Linked DNA regions of Homo sapiens: all the other regions are linked to region 2. The links come from fine-mapping of genetic effects on gene expression. A gene starts in region 2. Each other region holds a variant in brackets. All regions are shown on one strand. Distances are between the middles of the regions.

The links. PIP is the estimated chance that this variant, and not a neighbour inherited with it, causes the effect.
Region 1: its variant is the best candidate, but not a certain one, in a credible set for the expression of NFAM1 in whole blood (INTERVAL, PIP 0.58).
Region 3: its variant is the best candidate, but not a certain one, in a credible set for the expression of NFAM1 in whole blood (TOPMed, PIP 0.71).

The regions. Positions count from the first base shown.
Region 1 is chr22:42,395,806-42,399,961 of GRCh38, forward strand. NFAM1 (NFAT activating protein with ITAM motif 1) reads right to left here. Exons shown (of 6, transcript NM_145912.8): 4 at 2,053-2,151. Among named protein-coding and RNA genes, the nearest start is that of LINC01315, 29 kb to the left of the region's middle. RefSeq lists a silencer at 1,018-1,312. The variant G/A (reference allele first, on the strand shown) is at 2,426.
Region 2 is chr22:42,429,918-42,434,073 of GRCh38, forward strand. NFAM1 (NFAT activating protein with ITAM motif 1) reads right to left here and starts at 2,486. Exons shown (of 6, transcript NM_145912.8): 1 at 2,320-2,486. The coding sequence starts at 2,440.
Region 3 is chr22:42,377,753-42,381,908 of GRCh38, forward strand. NFAM1 (NFAT activating protein with ITAM motif 1) reads right to left here. Exons shown (of 6, transcript NM_145912.8): 6 at 2,655-4,156. Among named protein-coding and RNA genes, the nearest start is that of LINC01315, 11 kb to the left of the region's middle. The variant G/A (reference allele first, on the strand shown) is at 2,156.

The sequences.
Region 1 (4,156 bases), 34 kb before region 2:
CTGGGAGGCAGAGCTTGCAGTGAGCCAAGATCGTGCCACTGCACTCCAGCCTGGGCGACAGAGCGAGACTCTGCTCAAAAAAAAAAAAAAAAGAAAGAAAAGAAGAAAAGTAAAGAAAGTGAAAATGGGGACAAAACCTTTACCCTAAAACCTTATCAAGAGGATTGATAAAATATAACAGGTGTAAAGTCCTGCCATGATCCCTGGCACATAGTAGGTACACAACAAATGGCTCTTGATACCATCATCGTTGTGACTGTCACTCTTCTCCGCCCAGGCCCAATCCCAGTTGGTAGACCCTTATGTCAAGGGCTTGGCAAAGTTCTATGACCTCTACTCTCCAAGCTGGCCTGCAACTCTGCAGGCAGTTAGGTCTGTTCACCTCACTCCAGAGAAGTCGGCCTGCATCCTAGAGGCTGTGAAACCCAGGCAAAAAGAAGCTCTGCTCAAAAGAGCTCTTCCGTTAAACATAATCTCATAGAAAGATATTTATTCACGTGGAAAGATGTTCATGAAAAAAATAGCTGTATTGCTCCAATTAAAAAAGAAGTATGTGTGAGTGCGTATGGGTTTCTTTGTATATATTTATAGAAAAAATACTGGAAAATATATTAGTCAATGTTCTTAGTATTTATCCTGGAAGAAGATGGGATTAGGATGCTGGTTATTTTCTTCTTTTATATATATATATATATATCTCACATATGTGTATGCTGGGGGAGAGGGAAAGTGAGAGTGAGAGGGAGAGAGAGAAATATTTTCATCTAACAGTTGACACCAGAATCCCTGGTAGGGAAAATACCACTATGAGATGCTGGGAGACAGGAGAGAGTATGAGGAAGTCTCCGGCCACGTGCAAAACCGTGGCTGACAGAAACTCCCCAGGATGGGGAAGCTGAAAGCCCTTTGAGAACCATCACATTCCACTTGGAACTGTTGGCACTGCCCCACAGGGACATTTCCTTGGCCTCGCTGCCACCCGCCCCATCCTCAGCAGACAAGGCTGTATCCTGGGCGTCCTCTGTGTGGTGTTCTGTGGCGTTATTAGGGTGAGTCAATGTTGTGGGAACAGAAACGACAGCACGTACGAGCAGAACCCAAGCACCATCGCAGCCAGGGGGCGTGCACCTGGGGGGCGTGCACCTGGGGAGCGTGCACCTGGGAACCTGCAGGGCCCCAGAAGGGCTGTGTGCCTTCCAGGCGTGGAGTGGGGAGCCCACCTGGCGGTGCCAGATCTCACGAGATGGGGACCCCAGCTGGCACTGGGTGGCATTTCTTCTTCCCTTGCTCTACTTGGAGCATATGTTGTTCGTGGAGCCGAAAGGAACGTAGCAAAAAGAGTGTTCCCAGCCCTCCCCGGCCCCAGCCGCTGGGCAGAGGGCTGCATGCTGGCTGGCTGGCCAGGCTGGGGCAGCCTGGCCTCCTCGGCCCCTACGCTGCACCCACCTTCCACTTCCTGGAGATGCACCCACATCTCCAGGAAAATTGTTTCAGAAAATGCCTACAACACAGCAGAGAGTGGAACAAACAGGGTCCCAACGCATGTCTGCGCTGTGATTGTGACCATGTAAGATAATATCTGCATGTGCCAGGAGGGGAGAGAGCAAATCATTACAAATCACTGATGTGTTAAGGGCGTGGGATGGCGCCTGACCTCTTCCTCTTTTTGTGATTTTTGTTGTTTATACAATAAAAACAGGAGGAAGTGGTAAGAGCTGTTTGGTCAGATGAAGGAGCTTTCTTCATTCTTCGCCAACTTGTGCCGTCACTACCCCTTGTCCCAGAATGAGGATCCATGCCAAGGAGGGGAACAGGGCATGGGGGGCACCTGACATTCGTATGCCTTCCAGGAGCCCTGCACGTGTCATCTCTTTTCAGCTTCAGAGAAATTCCATGAGGTAAGAATTGTTATCCCCATTTTATAGATGAGGAACTTGAGGCTAGGAGAGTCCACACAGCTGGTACAAGACTGAGCCAGACAGACCCTGGTACAAGACAGACTCTGCCTAAGGCCTGAAAGAGGTGGAGGGAGCCGGGGGCCCCGGGACTCACTGTGTAGACAGATTCTGAAGGATGCTGCTTGGGGCTGCTGGCAGATCTTGGATCTGGGCACTTCCTGGTGGGGTCCTTCCCTGGACCCCGCATCCGCTTCTGTAGGGAGAAAGGAGTCAGGGCCAGGGATGAGTGGCTCTCGTCTTCCTCCCCGCACAGACCCCCCAGGGGAAAGGATGGCAGATTGTCATGAGGTCACACAGAGATTCATCACTCAGTCCCTCCCACTCACCCTCTCCAGGGAAACATGGCAAATGCCTACAAGACCTGCATCAAGCCATTCCTGCACCTGGAGACACAGGAAATGGAAAAGGCCCACACGAGGTGATGTCCCTGGACAGAGCACCTGGCTGGTAGGGACCCAAGCTACTGG[G/A]ACCAGTGCCAGTGGGGCAGGGCCCCAGGGACCGAGCCAGCAGCCATGGGTGGGCCCCTAGTGGTGCCAGCCAGGTCCAGTGTCCAGTCTTCCTCTGCTGTCACTGGCTCTGGCCTCGAGCGAGCCAGTTCCCCTCTGGGCCTTGGTTTTATTTATTATTATTATTATTATTATTATTATTATTATTATTATTATTATTTGAGATGGAGTCTCACTCTGTTGCCCAGGCTGGGGTGCAATGGTGCAATCTCAGCTTACTGCAACCTCTGCCTCCCGGGTTCAAGCGATTCTCCCGCCTCAGCCTCCTGAGCAGCTGGGACTACGGGCATGTGTGCCACCACGCCCGGCTAATTTTGTATTTTTAGTAGAGATGAGGTGTCACCATGTTGGACAGGCTGGTCTCGAACTCCTGACCTCAGGTGATCCACCGCCTTGGCGTCCCAAAATGCTGGGATTACAGGTGTGAGCCACTGCACCCGGCCATGGGTCTTGGTTTCTTCAGCAATAACCCTCTTTTGTGAGACTGATGCAAAGTTACAATGAGGGCACAAGGAGTAGGTGCCTGGTGCTTAGGAGGTGCTGCTTAGAAGGCCCTTGCTCAACCAACACACACTTGATAGCACTGGCAAGCCAGGCAGTGTGAGGAGGTGGGCACCGTCCCTACCCTCCTGGAGTTTAGGGACCAGTGAAGAGATGGAGGATGAACCAGTGGTTTTGCCGAAACATGGTATGTGGGTTGATTGCCAGGCACAGAGCCTCTGGCACATGAGGAGGAAACCAATGCCCCACTGGGCAGAAGCGATATTGAAGGTGAAATCCTGAGGGCAAGAAGTTCATTTAGCAAAAGAGGGAGGAGGGAGCCTCAGGTAGAGGGAACAGCAGGTGCCAAGGCCTGGAGGTCTGGAGGCACGTGGAGAAGGTCAGCATAGGCCAGGCACGGTGGCTCATGCCTGTAATCCCAGCACTTTGGGACTCGGAGGCCGAGTCGGGTGGATCACCTGAGATCAGGAGTTTGAGACCAGCCTGGCCAACATGGCAACACCCCATCTCTACTAAAAATATAAAAACTAGCTGGGCATGGTTGTGGGCGCCTGTAATCCCAGCTACTCGGGAGGGTGAGGCAGGAGAATCGCTTGAACCCAGGGGGCGGAGGTTGCAGTAAATCGAGATCACACCATTGCACTCCAGCCTGGGAGACAGAGCGAGATCCCATCTCAAAAAAAAAAAAAAAAAGAAAGAAAGAAAAAAAGAGAGAGAGAGAGAAGGTCAGTGTGTGGCCCGAGAGAGGAGCCTGCCTGGGAGGGGCAGGCGTGGCGTGGCCGTGCTGGCTGCATGAAGAGCATAGGAAACATCTGAGGGCTCGAAGTGGGAGCGCCAGGGTCAGAGCTGTGCTGGAGAAAGCTCCCGCTGGTCACAGTGGAGGCTGGGCCGGGCCTGCTGGGAAGGTGAAGGCTGGGGAGTCACGAGGCGGTACAGGCAGCCCTCTGGAGGCAGAGGGAGGTGGCCTGGACATCCCCCCTCATTGCAGGCACCACACGGCCACTGCTGACAGTGGAGCCACAACTGCCTCATCTCAGGGCAGAAGCTAATTAAAAACCCTGGCCTCCTGCCAAACCCCAGCCCATTTACTGCGGGATTAGCTGCTGAGAGCTACTTAACTCGCAGGCAGAAGCCGGCGCCACCCCCAGTCACAGCACATAATGGCTCAGAGCATGGAGCCAGGTAGGGTTC
Region 2 (4,156 bases):
GTGACATGGAGTGACAGATAGATGAAGGGGGATGCACAGGGGTAGGACAAAGAGCGGGTTGGGGGTTGGGCACAGTGGCTCACGCCTGTAATCCCAGCACTTTGGGAGGCCAAGGCGGGTGGATCACCTGAGGTCAGGAGTTCGAGACCAGCCTGGGCAACACTGTGAGTCTCTATCTCTACGAAAAAATTTAAAAAATAGCTGGGTGTGGTGGCACACGCTGTGGTTCCAGTTATTCGGGAGGCTGAGGTGGGAGGATCATTTGAGTGAGGGAGGCAGAGGTTGTAGTGAGCTGAGATTGCACCACTGCACTCCAGCCTGGTGGACGGAGCGAGACCCTGTCTCAAAAAAATAAAAACAGGACGGGCACAGTGGCTCACGCCTGTAATCCCAGCACTTTGGGAGGCTGAGGCGGGCAGATCACCTGCGGTCAGGAGTTCAAGACCAGCCTGGCCAACATGGCAAAACTCTGTCTCTACTAAAAATACAAAAATTAGCTGGGCATGGTGGTGGGCACCTGTAGTGCCAGCTACTCGTGAGGCTGAGGCAGGAGAATCACTTGAACCCAGGAGGCAGAGGTTGCCGTGAACCAAGATGGCGCCATTGCACTTCAGCCTGAGTGACAAGAGTGAAACTCTCAAAAAAAAAAAAAAAAAAAAAAATCATGGGTGGGGGTTTGTCTGCTGCTCCAAGGGACTCTAGGACACCGTAAGGGTGTTTTCACCTCTTGTGAAAGAACAGTTTCTCTTTTATGTAATGTTTGTTGCAATACCGGGTGGGAGGGGGTGGCACTGGGAATGTTTTGTTATAGTTGAGACTGTTACAAAAGAGCTTTTCCCCAGTAGCACCCCATAAAACCTCTTACTGCTCGGTTACCAGGGTGTGCTGGGTGTCTTTTGGGGAGGAGGAACCACACAAAGGGAAAGGATGGGAATTGGGGGGAAATTAAATTAAAAATGACTGTAGTTGAGACACATTGACACTAACAGGCTGCATTTCCGGGGTCTGGCCGTGTTTGCACCAACTGTCTGGGGTGTGGGGCGAGGCGTGCACAGGATTAAAGGAGATGGTGTCCTAGGGCTCTGGGCTGCAGCCTGGGGAGGTACACACAGGTCAGCCTTTGCCTCCCCAGGGTAAGTTTCCGGTGAAGAACATTCTTTACAAGTAAGAGGATCCTCTGAGCCTACTGGCCGAGGGGCCCAGCTTGGGGCTGAGGCTGGCCTGGGGCTGAGGCTGGCCTCTACTTACCGGCTAGGTCTTGAGCAAACGAACTGGCTTCCCTGGGCCTCCTTTTCCCTGTCCTTAAAATGGTGCAGGTGAGGACAATAGGAGCCCCAAGGGGTGCTGTGAGGGTGGCCAGTACGTGCCCTGCTAAGGGCTCCATAAAGCCTAATTTGTGGTCATGAGAGGGGGTGCAGCAGGACAGGGTGGGGGCAGCTCTTGAAAGCCCCATAAACTAAGAGAATAGAAAGGAAGGCACCCTGTCTCCACAGTGGAGGCCACCCCTTTGGCCAGAGGGAGGGTTGGCTGCTGCCCGGCCAAGGAGGGGCAGAGAGAATCTGGCAGAATTCACTGAGCCCTCGTGCTGGCAGCCCTGGAATGGGACCCTCCTGGGCCGTCCCTGGCCTGATGAACTGGCCCTGAGGCTACCTACCCCACAGCTTGGCTCGGATCCCGGCCACCCAGCTTCCAAGAAAGCCTGGAACCAGGAAAGGAGCGCCGCTGGCGTGGAAAGACACACTTGCATCCTAAAACACTTGGCCTCTGGTTGTGTTTCAGGAACTGGGAGGTGAGACCCTTTCTGGTGACTGACAGTTTTGTGCCTCTGGGCGCAGAGCCCTGTGGCTGGCCCTGGTATCCCCCCCTCCCCCCTCTCCCCGCTCTCCCTGGCCAATGCCAGCAACAACCCAGAGGGTAGCCCCACCACTTGCCAGGTTCAACGCAGTGTCCCCCGCAGCAGCCACGTGAGGTTCCTCGGATGGGGAGCTGTCCCTCCCCCCTGCCCCGCCCCTGGCCCCAGCCACACAGCGCCCACCCTCCTTGTTTAAGGGCCAGGAGGCCAGACTGCTGGGGCAAAGCTGTCACAGCAGCGAGGGAGAGAGCGCTGTCCCCCTCCCCTTCAAAAGCCACCTTGGCAAGGCATTAGCTAAACATCTTCTCGGTCCCAGAAGGCTTCCCCTGTGAAGTCTGCAGCGTTCAAACGACAACCAGCAAATCCCCAGAGACAGGTCCCTGGGAATTAGCTGCGCCGGGCGGGATGAAAGCCGCTCTGATGTTCTGGAGCGAGAGAGTAGAGAGAAGGAGGAAGACAGACACTACCTGCCAGTCGCAGGGTCCCGGGCAGCAGCAGCACGCCAAGGAGGAGCCAGGGGGCTGCGGGGAGCCCAGGAGGGCGTGGGAGGCCTGGCAGGGCCCGCCACCTCACAGGCTGGTTCTCCATCTGGGGGCCTGCTTGTCTGCGGCGACTCTTTAGTTCACAGGAGGGGACGGCCGGCGCTGACAGCTTCCCCTTTGCTTTCCCCACGAAGCTCCTCCCTGGCAGCCCCTGACCTTCCGCTCAGAAGCAAAGCTGGAACAGCCCAGCAGGGTGGCCGCCAGATGAGGAACCTGGCACTGAGACTGGTCCAGGCCACACAACCAGAAGAAGAGCTGGAGACGGGACCCAAGCCTCCCCACTCCAACCCCTGGTGGGCTTCACCCTGTCTCGGCCCCTTTCCAGCAGGGGCCCCGTCCAGGAGACACTGGTAACTGTGCAGAGGGATCATGGGATTTCCATGAGTGACTTCGGGCCTTGGTTTAGCCTCTCACTTCTGAAACACTTTTAAAACGACCACAAGCATGTTCACACAAACTTCTCTAAAATATTCTGAGAATCCCTTAATAATGTGTTTACCAAAGGTAGGTTTTTTGGTGAGGGGTGGTAGGGAGGCTGGGGTGAAGGGCAGGAGCCTCATGTTCCCAGCCCTAGAGAGGGCCAAACACCCAGGGCAGGTGAAAGGCAGGCTGCCCATCATTCACCCAGCGAGAACCTCTGTGGGTCCCCTGCAGAGGCCCAGGAGACGCCTCCTCTCTGGTCCATCTCTAACGTCAGCTCCTCCCTGTGGCTGCCCTAAAGCTTAGCTCACTCGGCCTCCCAACTGTGAGACCCTCGAACTGCTTCCCCATTGGCTGCAGGTCACAGCCCCTGCTCTCACTTCTAGCAGCATCAGCCGGGGACAGGAATTGTTTGCTGCCGGGACCCCCTTCCCCAGCAGACTGGGAGCCCCTCACCCTTGGCACCCACACATCTGCCTGCGTGTCTGGAGTGGCAGAGGAAAGGGGCTGGGGTGTGGTGATGGCTGGTGGAGCTGGAGGCACCTGGTACATGGAAGACGCAGGCGGGAAGGTGGCTGAGTTTCAGCGCATGCTGAGCGCTTACCTCCCTTCTCTGCAGGTGTCCCTTCACTCACCAGATAAATGTGATGATCCCAGTTGTACAAAAGAGAAGACCTCGGCCCCAGGAGGCAAAACAACATGCCTAGGATCAGGGCAGGTCTGTGGGGCGGGCATTTGAACTGCCAGTGGTATGATGTCCGAGCCTTCTCCCACCCTGCTACTGCCTGCTCAGGTGTGTCCAGCTGCAGCCCCCGGTGACGGCATCATGAGATCCATTTCAGTTCTTTGCACACATGCTTTTCCCTGGGCTGCTCCAAACATGAACAGTGAAAGCCTAAAGACGTTTCCACCAATGCCACGAGCACTGGGAGGCTGGCAAGAGCAGGGGCCGCCCACCAGGGGAGGAAGACATATGAACAGGAGAAGTTTCCTACCGCGCAGGGGGCAGGCGGGGACCCCAGTGTTATTGACTGTTGATCCATCACAGTGATACATGCTCACATATGTCACAGTGAGATGCAGACCCGCTGCTTCACGCTATTCCTGGCTCCTGGGAGTAGCAGGTTGTCTAAGCACCTTGATGCCATGGTGATAGACCTCGTGTCAATGCCTCAGGGTACACGGGGAGCATTGGAAAAGCATCGGTCTGTGCCTCTACAAGTCTCATTACGACTTGGCACTGGGAGGCAGCTGAATGCCAAACTGCCTCGGAACAAGGGAGCCTGCTCTTCCAGCCCTGGTGCCGCCTCCGCTCCTGCCCCTGTGCCAGCTCACTGACCCT
Region 3 (4,156 bases), 52 kb before region 2:
CCCAGACTCAGAGGTGGGGAGCTCAGCATCTTGGGGAACAGCAGCCATAGATGGAAGCATGAATGGAGCTGGGGTGACTTTGGGCCAGTAGGAGCCAATCAGAAATGAGCTGGTGGACTCCATGAAGACAGGACTGTCCATTTCTTATTCCAGCCACAGCACTGGGCTTGACACATAGTTGGAGCGGGACAAATGTTGTTAAAAGAATGAAGGATGGCCAGGTGTGGTGGCTCACACCTGTAATCCCAGCAATTTGGGAGGCTGAGGCAGGCGGATCACTTGAGGTCAGGAGTTTGAGACCATCCTGGCCAACGTGGTGAAACCCTGTCTCTACTAAAAATACAAAAAATTAGCCAGGCGTGGTGGCACTCATCTGTGATCCCAGCTACTTGGGAAGCTGAGGCAGGAGAATTGCTTGAACCTGGGAGACAGAGGTTGCAGTGAGCCAAGATTGCACCACAGCACTCCAGCCTGGGTGATAGGAGGGAAACCCTGTCTCAAAAAAAAAAAAAAAAAAAAAAAAAAAAAAAAGCCAAGCATAGTGGCTCACACCTGTAATCCCAGCATTTTGGGAGGCCGAGGTAGGTGGATTTCTTGAAGTCAGGAGTTTGAGACCAGCCTGGCCAATATGGTGAAACCCCATCTCCACTAAAAATACAAAAAAAATTAGCTGGGCCTGGTGGCACGTGCCTGTAGTCCCAGCTACTCGGGAGGCTGGGGCAGAAGAATTGCTTGAACCCAGGAGGTGGAGATTGCAGTGTGCCCAGATCACACCACTGCACTCCAGCCTGGGCCTCACAGAGAGACTCCATCTCAAAAAAAAAAAAAGAAAGAAAGAAAGAAGAAAAGAAAAAAAAAAGTGAAGGAGTGGTAGGAGTGGTAAGAGCCCTGAATGTGAGACTAAGGGGTTGAGCCCCGATCCTATGGACAGTGGAAACCACTGTGAGTTTTGGTATAGGGTGTGAGGTAGGGGTCATGTAGAGGTTTGGCTCTCCCAGCACCAATTGTTGAAAAGACTGTTCCCCATTGAATGATGGTGGCCCCCTTGTTGGAATGAATTGACCATTACCATAAGGTATGGCAGGCTTTTGAGAGAGGAATCATGTGGTCAGATATGTATTATAGAAAGATCAGGTGAGACTTGTTTGGACTGGGAATGGCTGGGAGGAGGAGGGGTTGGAGGGAGGCTCTTATGGGTGGACTTGATGGCAGGGGGACAGAAGGGGCATCTGGGGAGAAGAGACATCCCTGGATCAGCCCATGGCGGGCAGCAAGGTACAGGGCTATGTCCTGAGCCAAGGCCAGGATCTGGCCCACTTGGGCCTGTGGAACTCACTGGGGGATGGGGATGGGGCAGTCAAGGGAGAGACAGAGAAAATGCCCCCACTCCTCGGCCCCTCAAGGTCCTCAAAGTGGTAAAATAAAACCCACTCCAGATATAGCCATTTGCAAAGTCAGTTTTCAGGTAATGAAAGGATTGTAATGGAAAAACAATGCCAATTACAGCAGCATTATCCGGGATTATAAAGCTTCTAAGAGGCGGCTCACACCTCCAGGCATGCTGTGCCTGGGAATTTCCAGGGTAGACTTGGGATCAGAGCATACAGGCTGCCAGGATCCAGGCCTCACAGTGGGCGTGGGCTGCTGGGGAGGCCCAACCCCTGGGGCTCTATGGATCTGCCTCCATTTCCCCAAAGAGATAGAATACCGGGAGGCAGGAGGACCCCCCCAACTTCACACACACACACACACACACACACACACACACACACTTCTGAGAAATTGGATAAGAGGAATGTGAGGCTGCCAGCCCATCTCTGAAGGAAACCTGTTCTTCTGTGGGCTTCCCTACTCCTGGGGACACCACATCCCTCCATGGCTCTTTCTGCCTCCCCCATCACCTCCCCTACCTGGCCTTGGGGACAGCAGGACTGCACACATGCCCTTGGGGACAGCAGGACTGCACACACGCCGAGGCAGCCCAGCGTTGCTCCTCCTGGGCTGTGTGACCTGGAGCCAGTCAGCTGTTCTGAGTGGTAGCTTCTGCTTCGATAAAATGGGGAGATCACCCCTGCCCACCATCACAGACCTATTTTCAGGATTAAATGAAATATTCTAGATAAAGAGTCCGAGGAATAGAAACCAGTCCAACCTC[G/A]GGGCCTGGCGATTTGGTGGTGACTGTTAGAACAGTGAACTTCTATGCACTGGGTCCCAGGAATCCCTCCTCATTTCCCATAGGGAAAGTTTTGCAGATGTGTGTGTGTACAAGGATGTTCCCTGCAGCCCCTTATGTGAGGTTGAAAAATCATAAACAACTGAAAAGGCCTTCGATAGGGGGCCTGATTAAATTAGGATCCATCTGTCCTGCAGGATCCTTTGCTGTAATTGGAGTCTGGCAGCTCCTGTGTGCTGTCTCCGGCAGATCCCACCACGTGGGGCTGCATCAACAAAGCAAGTGCAAACAACACCTACAAAATGAATGCATCGCGGCTGTTCGGAAGCCCGCACGGCGCTCCACATTTTACATGTTCACAGGTAGACACCTAGATGCCATAAAAGCAGCGACGAAGAAAACACTCCCAAATGACCCGATTGGTTACTACTGGGGAGGGGACGGGTATGGAGGCTGGGAGGTGGCAGGTGCATCAGAGGAGTTTCACTTTGCTGTAGTTTTAATGTTTCACTGTAACATATGCTTCTGTCACCCACATATGTCACCTCCAGACACACACAAAACACACGCCAACACCAAGTTCAGAGAGTCTGGCCTGACCCGCGCTCAGTCAAGGCTGAGGCCATCATTCTGACCACAGGTCAGGGAAGGGAGACTGGGGAAGCCCCCTCAGGTGGACAAATGACATCCCCTGGCATTGCAAGGAATGGAGTGACGCCACTCAGCCTGGCTGGACTGAGCCAACGGCCCACCTCTCCTGCATAAGCTGTCTGCCAAGAAAACTATTGAACTACATAAAAATCCATCCCTGAAATCCCAGAGGCATCTTTAGAATGGAGCATGGACTTTACATTAGAATGTGCTTTAACAAAAAAAAAAAGAGAGAGAGAGAGAAAGAAAAAGGAAAAGCAGGTTTTGCCTGTAACTTGAGTTCAGGTTTGTGACACTGGGTGGCCAAAGAGCACTGCCTACCCTGGCCGAGGCCACCAGGCTCAGTTCCTGCAATATTGGCTGTGAAGGGAACCCCAGCCACACCGGGTTCAGCGCAGAACCAGCACATGTTCCCATGGAAACTCTGCTGCCAGAATCCCCTGGAAATGTTTGCTGAGGAGGGGCCACCGTTTACCGCACCCACTGCAAGTTCTGGACTGGTGGTAGAGGCTGGGCACAGACTGACCTCCAGAAGAAGTCCATGGGCCCTCTGCTAGGGTGGCACCAGACTTCCCTGGTCCCACAGGACAGCCAGTGGCCTCCTAGCTTAGTTCTGGGCCCCCGCCTGCAAGCACACGTGGCAAGGAGGGCTTCAGCAGGCTCGCAGAACCGAGTGGCAAGGCCCCTGCTCCCAGAAGCTGGTTTCCCAGGATGATTTTCTCAAGCAAGTGCTGACAGAGCAGGAGTCAAGCGGGGGTGGGGTTGGAGGCTGAAACCCATTGAAGGGGTCAACTTCCTAGAGGCAGGCAGGGATGCCTGGGGGTGCCAGACGTGGCTGAGATGTTTCTGCAGAGGGGAGGTTGGGAAGACCTAGGAGGGCAGGGCAGGCTGGGCCGGGAGAGATGGTGGGAAATCCCACCAGGTCAGGGGCCAGTGGGCAGAGGGAAGCATCAGCTGAGACCCAGAGACAGGGCTGCCCTGCTGCGGTAGGGCCCAGGGGCAGGGGCCTGCAGGGGCTGCCTGGGGCTTCCCTTCCCCACCCTAACTCCAGTCCCCACTCAGGACTGCTCACATCCGTCCGTCCTGGAAGGTCCACAGCTCCCCTTCACCTAGGCCTCACCTACTCCACTCAAGCCACCCCATCCCCCTTAGCTTTTCCCCTCCAGGCCCATTCATTCAGCTCCTGCTAAGCCAGCACCCTCCTTCCCTCACCTCTCTGCTTACCTTGCTCCCACCCCCAGCTCTGGGCAGCCCTGGCCTGTCCATCTGATCGTGCTACCCCGTAGGCACTCCTTAAAGGCATGGCTGCAGAGAGCCTGGGCCCAGCTCCCA